2 linked regions of the Homo sapiens genome follow. The protein of the gene in region 1 purifies or fractionates together with the protein of each later gene. This does not show direct contact. Each region holds a gene or a part of one and is shown in the gene's direction. Other genes may lie near its edges.

The links.
Region 2: the proteins of CEP295 (region 1) and KATNAL2 purify together in Homo sapiens (tandem affinity purification; one large-scale study listed by IntAct). This does not show direct contact.

What each region holds. Positions count from the first base shown.
Region 1 is NC_000011.10:93,668,182-93,671,681, forward strand, and holds part of CEP295 (centrosomal protein of 295 kDa), read left to right. Parts: intron 1-626; coding exon 627-751; intron 752-1,495; coding exon 1,496-1,589; intron 1,590-3,500. UniProt on the Homo sapiens protein: Centriole-enriched microtubule-binding protein involved in centriole biogenesis.
Region 2 is NC_000018.10:47,057,102-47,060,601, forward strand, and holds part of KATNAL2 (katanin p60 ATPase-containing subunit A-like 2), read left to right. Parts: intron 1-1,133; coding exon 1,134-1,251; intron 1,252-2,454; coding exon 2,455-2,553; intron 2,554-3,500.

The sequences.
Region 1 (3,500 bases):
GAAAGTCACAGTAAGTCTGCCCCATTATTTTGATTTATTGTGATTTATGATGTGGAAATACTACAGTCCCAGAATCAGTCACATACAGTAAACAAGCTAGTTACAAAGAAGGTAAATCTTTGATAACAACTAGTGAGAAAGAAAATATCTTAAGACTGTGGCAATCTGTTTCATGGTCCTTGGTTTTAGTCTGTGTTTTTAGTAATAGCCGTAAGTTCTGACTCAGGTTTTTGTGGTTTTATGCATGCCACATTAAGTTTGTGCCTAATGCAATGTTTCCCAAACCTCTGTTATTTGAATACCATGTTCACAATTTTTGCCCTGACTGGGAAACTACCCATATCACTATATATTTTACGTACTTTAACCATGTCCTAAGTAGTTCGATATCCTATTTATATTTTTGTAATAATGTTAATTGATTGCATTAACTTTACATTAAAATGTTTGTGTTTGTCCCCCCTAATATGGCATATCATCAGTGGTACTGTTGTCATGCTCTGGGAAACACTGCTATAGTATGTAGAAAGAAGATGACAAAATTGATAAATCACTTCTGATATCATATGAGACACATTTCTATTATTCTTGTTTAACATGACATTTTAAGTAATATATATTTTTAGGAACCTGATTTGGATGCTTTGGCACAGCGGGCAGCAGAAAGGAAAAGAAAAGCAGATTTGAGGCATAAAGAAGCCTTGAAAGTACAGAAAAATCAAAAAGAAATATTACTGAAACAAAAAACCTGGTAAAGTAATAATTTTTACTATAATCTCAACTGAAACTAACATGGTTGAAAGTAGAGGATACATAGGATACTGTGTAAGCAAATATTAAATAAACATAGTAGCATATTCATTGCATTTGTTAAACTTGATTTAAAAATAATGTTGGGGACAGGGAATGATTTGCTTAGGTGAACATAGTAACTAATGAGCTTTCTTTTCTAGTTGTAGTTTGAGTTGAGTTTAGCAGCAGTTACTAAGTTTCTGAAAAAATATATGGCTACTTCAGAATGCATGTCAACCAATGTCTGTTTCCGATGTAAACATGAAATAAAAATTGATGTGATTAAGAACATTAAAAGAGGTTGTAGACTCTGGAAGTCATTAGTATTTTTTGCATGTTGTAAAAATTAAAGGGCCATTCACAGGAAACGTGAGTGAAGCAAAGTAAAAAATTAAGGGCCCTGTTACTAGTTAGCAACAGCCATTTTTAACAACATTTCTGTTTTTTTTTTTTTCACTCTAAAGAACATTATAAGTTTCTTGGGTTGGTCCCCACCATAGAGCTTTCTGTCTTTAGATAGGCCTCTCTCAATTTGTAAACATTTTCTTAACATATGTATAGACTCTTTACACATGTAAAGCTTACTGAGCCTGTGGAATCAGACTAGAGGATTTCTTGAGCCTATGACTTACATATTTTTAACCCTGTTGTACTATAATATTATCACTGAGAGATTAATTGATGACATCTCTTGTTTCTTAAGGCATATAAAAGCTCGAAAGGAAGCACTGCTTGTGGAAAAAGAGAGATCAGCCAAAATTACAAGTCTGCCACCTCCTCCTCCAACTCTTTTTGAGGTGAGTTTGAGTATTAAGAGGAACTAGGTCATAATTCTTCTTTACTATTATAATTCAGTGGAGGTCAGAATGACTATCACTTAAACTTAATTGTACAAGTTTTCTTGTACAATTAAAAACTTGTACAGGAGTATATCTGGAGTATGTTAAAATAATTCTAGATATCATTTCACCTGTAAATACTTTAGTATGTATCTCTGATGTATAAGGACTTTTTTCTTAGTATAATACTAATATTGTTTCCAATATTATTTAATACCCAGTATTTGTTCAGCCTTCCTCAATGATGTCAAAAAAATTTTGTTGTTTGGAAAACTATAATGGTTTTGGTTTTGAAAAATCTTTTAATAATTCTGCCTTTTGAAAAAATACCCTTTATTTATTTATTGGGGGAAAAAACTAAACTATTCGTCCATTAGGCTTTCCCACACTCTGAATTTGGCTTATTTTAAATGGTCAATATTTTACAGATAAGTTTCAGTTAAGTTAATAAATTTACATAAGATTATAAAGTATCCAGGTGTGATTTTAAAAAAGAAAAGAGGAAAAAAATATTATAAAATAATAAGGATCTATTTTTTATGGGAGTAAAATGTGTGCTTTTGTGATTTGAAGCTTATTTTTTTTAAAAAAATGTAATTAAAGCAGAAATTTTTTAAAATACTTGTTCTCCACATTAGCTTGTTATAGTTATTGAAATGGCTATTTGGATGATTGTCAAAATTACCTAGTTATTTTTATCTGAAGAATGAAGTAGAAGTAAACCCAGAAATACATAGTTGTACATACAAGTATATTCTGTATAAGCATAAGTACCAGATACTCACTTCTTAGGCCTTTCAGTTTGTCAGCCTTCCTGCTTGTACGTTGAGCCATCTACCATGTAACATTTGATCCAACAAAATTCAGACGGAAAAGTTGTATTTCAGTCACTCCTTCGGTACAAAGTGACATGATAAAAGCCAGGCAATGTATTATCCATGATGCCTTTTGATTATTTTTGTCTTAATTCTTAGTATTTATAACAAGCCAAAGTCAAAAATTTATAAAAAGTAAACAAAACTCTGTAAGTGCTTTGACAAGCATGAATTAATCAGTGGGCATGAACTATTTAGTTCTTTTTTTCTTTTGAGGCAGAGTCTTGCTCTGTCACCCAGGCTGGAGTGCAGTGGTGCAATCTTGGCTCACTGCAGCCTCTACCTCCTGGGTTCCAGCGATCCTCCCACCTCAGCCTCCTAGGTAGCTGGGATTATAGGCATCTGCCACCATGCCCCGCTAATTTTTCTGTTTTTAGTAGAGACGGGGTTTCACCATGTTGGCCAGGCTGGTCTCGAACTCCTGACCTCAGATGATCCACCCACCTCTGCCTCCCAAAGTGCTAGGATTACAGATGTGAGCCACTGCACCCAGCCTCGTTCCTTTTAGGAAAACAGGATATATTCCTTGTTTTTCCTCTCTGCCAGTTTTCAGAGTAAAGGGTTGGGGTAATAATCAATGCCATTGGTGGTAAATGGGTTTTTTTTTCCTTTCTCTTTTGTTACTATCACTGTTAACTTGTGGGGGTTTTTTACTCAATATTACATAGTCAATTATAGTCATTCTTTTTCTTCTCACTGATGTTCGTAATATCTGAAATTTGGTCAGCAGGAGACTTGAAGTTGTTTCTTGCGTCCCCGTGACTCCATGAGCATTTCCTTGCTCTGTGCCCCAGCAAATGACCTAGGCTTAATTTACTCTGTCCCGTATCTGGTATCTCCAAAGACCCCTGATTCTTTTTAGTGGAGAAGTGGTACTTATAAACTAAGATCTGGGTGATTATATTCTTGTTTCACTAAAAGGCATTATTTTAGAAAAATACATTACCCAAGCCAATAAAGGTGTTTGGGATAAGGCAGTGTTTCTGAATGTCTT
Region 2 (3,500 bases), on another chromosome or scaffold:
ATGTGTGGTCTTGCTGGCCAAATAGTTGTGCATTTATATTAGACATGAACATTTATTATCCCCATAAAGAAAGGAAGTTGAAATAGCAGCTCTCTGAGATCACTCTGAACATGGGGAGACTTGCTTCTAACGAACCTTCTGCAAATGCATCTCACATATGGGGACAAAAGTGCTAAGAGAACTAAGCAACAATGTGGGAGTTCATGTTCTGCCCCCACAAGCTAGTCCTGTCTCTCTCTGGATGGCATCTTCTACAGAAAAATATGGATATTCCAATACTGAATTTTATATCTAATTATGAGGATGTAGTGAAAAAAGTGATTTGATCTTTCTATGGATATATAACATATATACAGTCATACCACATATATAACTATGTATACAGTAAATGTATATACTCTTGTAACCACAGTTACAGCCACCGGCAAGCTACCTTTGCCCCTTCTCAGTCAAATTCTCCCCATCTCCATCAGAGTTAGCTACTCTTCTGACTTCCAGCCCCATCAGTTTGTTTTGTCTGAAGTAAACAATTGTTGATGAAAATTTGTTTGGCAAATATGATTGGTCTGGGACAACATTGATGAAGGGAAGTTTGTTTTCCTTCTGCAATCCCCTTTTGATGTTTATTACTCATAACATGCTGAGAGGTATTTTAAGTAGGCAGGGTATATCCAGGACACTGGATTAAAACCATGGGGCCAATCCCTGGATTTCCTACTGTTTCTTAGTTTGAATGGGAGGACTCCTTTCTCTCTCACACCTTTCTCCTGGTCTAATGCTCCTTTTAAGGAAGGTGGAAGGAACAATGGAAGAATGCTTGTAAAGTAATGTATTCTTAAGAACTAAAGCTATTTGCAGAAGGGCCGAAGCTATGTGGTGTGAAAGGGAAATGAAGAGGGTGAGTTGGGGGGCTCGAGGAGGCAATCTTAGAAGAACCCAGTGAGTAGCCTGGAGGGTGTTAGGGCCAGGATGGACCTGGTGGGTGGATCACATAGGTGGAAGGGCCCTATAGTTGCCACCTGCATATCTTTCAATAGCTTTCTTAAATGTGCTATTCTTAAGAATAGTTGTTTAACTACCTCAAATTAAGTGGCTAGAATAATTTCTTCCAAGGTCTTTGTTCCCTCCCTTAGGATGATGAACGACAGTTGTCAAAATCTTCCCAAGATCAATCAGCAGAGGCCCCGGTCCAAAACCACAGCGGGGAAGACAGGGGACACCAAATCGCTCAATAAGGAGCATCCTAATCAGGTCAGGATGGCTTGGCTTGACTTTGTGAACAGCACACTTGGCTGAAAAATAGCCCTATGAAAAAGGTCACATTTATTTATTTTTTGAGGACCTACGCTTTTAAAATTGCTGTGTGATCTAATTGAATTTTAGGTTTTCTTCCAGTACACTGGACTAAAACCATGGACATATCCCTAGATTTCCTAATGTTTCTTAACTTGAGTGGGAGGACTTTTTTCTCCTCCAAGTTTTTCCCCTGGTCTGGGTGCTGGGTGATTGGCCAGGGTGGGGCCAGGGCCCAGTCAGAGCGGGAAGGCCTGGTTGCCTTGATCCTCCCATCTGAGGTAACTATTACCTGAGGTAACTGAGCTAACCAAGATGGCAGGTCTTCCCATCCCAGAGCACATTGCTAGGTTCCTAAGTGTAGGCCAGGCATAGCCTACACTACATTTCAGGTATGGCTGGGTCTCAAGGTCTCCTGTTGGGCTCCTCCAAATCGCACATGGTCAGCCCTCACCCCAGACCTTCATGCTGGACTTCCTGGGGGCCAAGAAGGGCAGCAAGGAGAGAATCCAGCAGGTGAGAGAAGTCAATGGCTCCTGACTCAGGAGGCTCATGTCCAGAACCTTCTTAGTTAGGACTAAACATCCCAGGTTTCAAAGGAAAGAGGACCAATGGAAACTGAGAAAAGGAATTAAAAAAATTAATGTCAAATAACGGAAAGGTATAATCACAATATCCGATTGGTCAAAAGGATTCTCTCCCCCTCAAGGAGGTCCTACGGTTCTGGCCGCTGCAGCCTGACTCATGTGGAAGAGAGGTGAAGGTGGGGCAGGATGAGTCCCATGGGAGGCTAGTTGACTCTGCCATATCTCCAAACTCAGCCACTCCTGGCCAAAAACACCCCTGATCACAGGAGAAAAGACGAGCCAGCGAATGGGGATGGGTTGAGGCACAACTGTTTGAAGCACATTGGAAAAGCTGCTTGGGGCCCATGGGGCCTGGCATCTTCTCAGTCTTCCAGGGACAACTCTTTCCACATAGTGCAGGCAGACAGCTACTTCATCTTCCTGGGTCTGCACAAATGTGGCTAAGCTACATGTGCATGTCGCGTTCACAGAATTGCTATCCAGCATCGGACTTTGCTTGATGGAGTAGGCAGGTACATCCAGCAACTCTCCATGGCTGCTCACAGCCGATGTGTCCTTGTCTCTCTTTCTTCAGGAGGTAGTTGATAACACTCGCCTGGAAAGTGCCAACTTCGGCCTACATATATCAAGAATCCGTAAAGACAGTGGAGAGGAAAATGCCCACCCACGAAGAGTAAGTGAAACTCATGAACCTAACACTGAAAGTGGTAATTTCTTTTTCCTTTTAAACATGAAAACAAAAAACATTATTTTTGTCAAACAGGAAAGTTAAGATGTGATTTTTGAAGGTTGGCTGTGAGGTAAATGGAGAAGAGCGTCAGAAAATGGGTTCTTCTTTGGAATCTCCTTTCTGAATGAATGGGCTGGCATGAACTGCCCCATCTCTAAGGAACTCAGTTTCCACATTTGTAAATTGAGGGGCTTGGAAGAGATTGTCTCTAGTGTTCCCATCAGCTTAAAAATTCTGTAATAACAATGACAAACATTGGCATGATCATCCTGCATCGTTCTCATCATTTTTTTTTTTTTTTAAGAGACAGGGTCTTGCTCTGTCACCCAGGCTGGAGTATAATGGTGCAATCATGGCTCACTGCAGCCTCAAACTCCTGGGCTCAAAGAATCCTCTTGCCTCAGCTTCCCAAGTAGCTAGGACTACAGGCATGCACCACAACATCCAGCTAATTTTTTTCATTTTTCTAGAGATGGGGTCTCACTATGTTGCCCAGGCTGGTTTCAAACTTCTAGCCTCAAGCAATCCTCCTGTCTGGGCTTCCCAAAGCGCTAGGACATCTGCGTTATTTAGTGAGTTGGAAACGCATACTCATTCTGCTCTGTCCTGTCAGTGGCATTTGATTAGTGGTGTCACCTTTCTCCTTGGAGGGATGGCTCCTGGTCTAAATGTAATTTCATGTGGACCATGAAACATCAGTTGATACAGGGTTGATTTTGTCCTTGATAGATATTTTTACCTTTTTCATAATGAATCTCATGTCTAGATTTCTAAATAATAATGTCTTAAGCAGAAAAGACCCAGATTGGGTGGATGTAGTCAAAAGGTAGATTAAAACATGTAATTTGGAAATGAATTGCACCATATTGCTCTTGGTCATACTCTCCAAG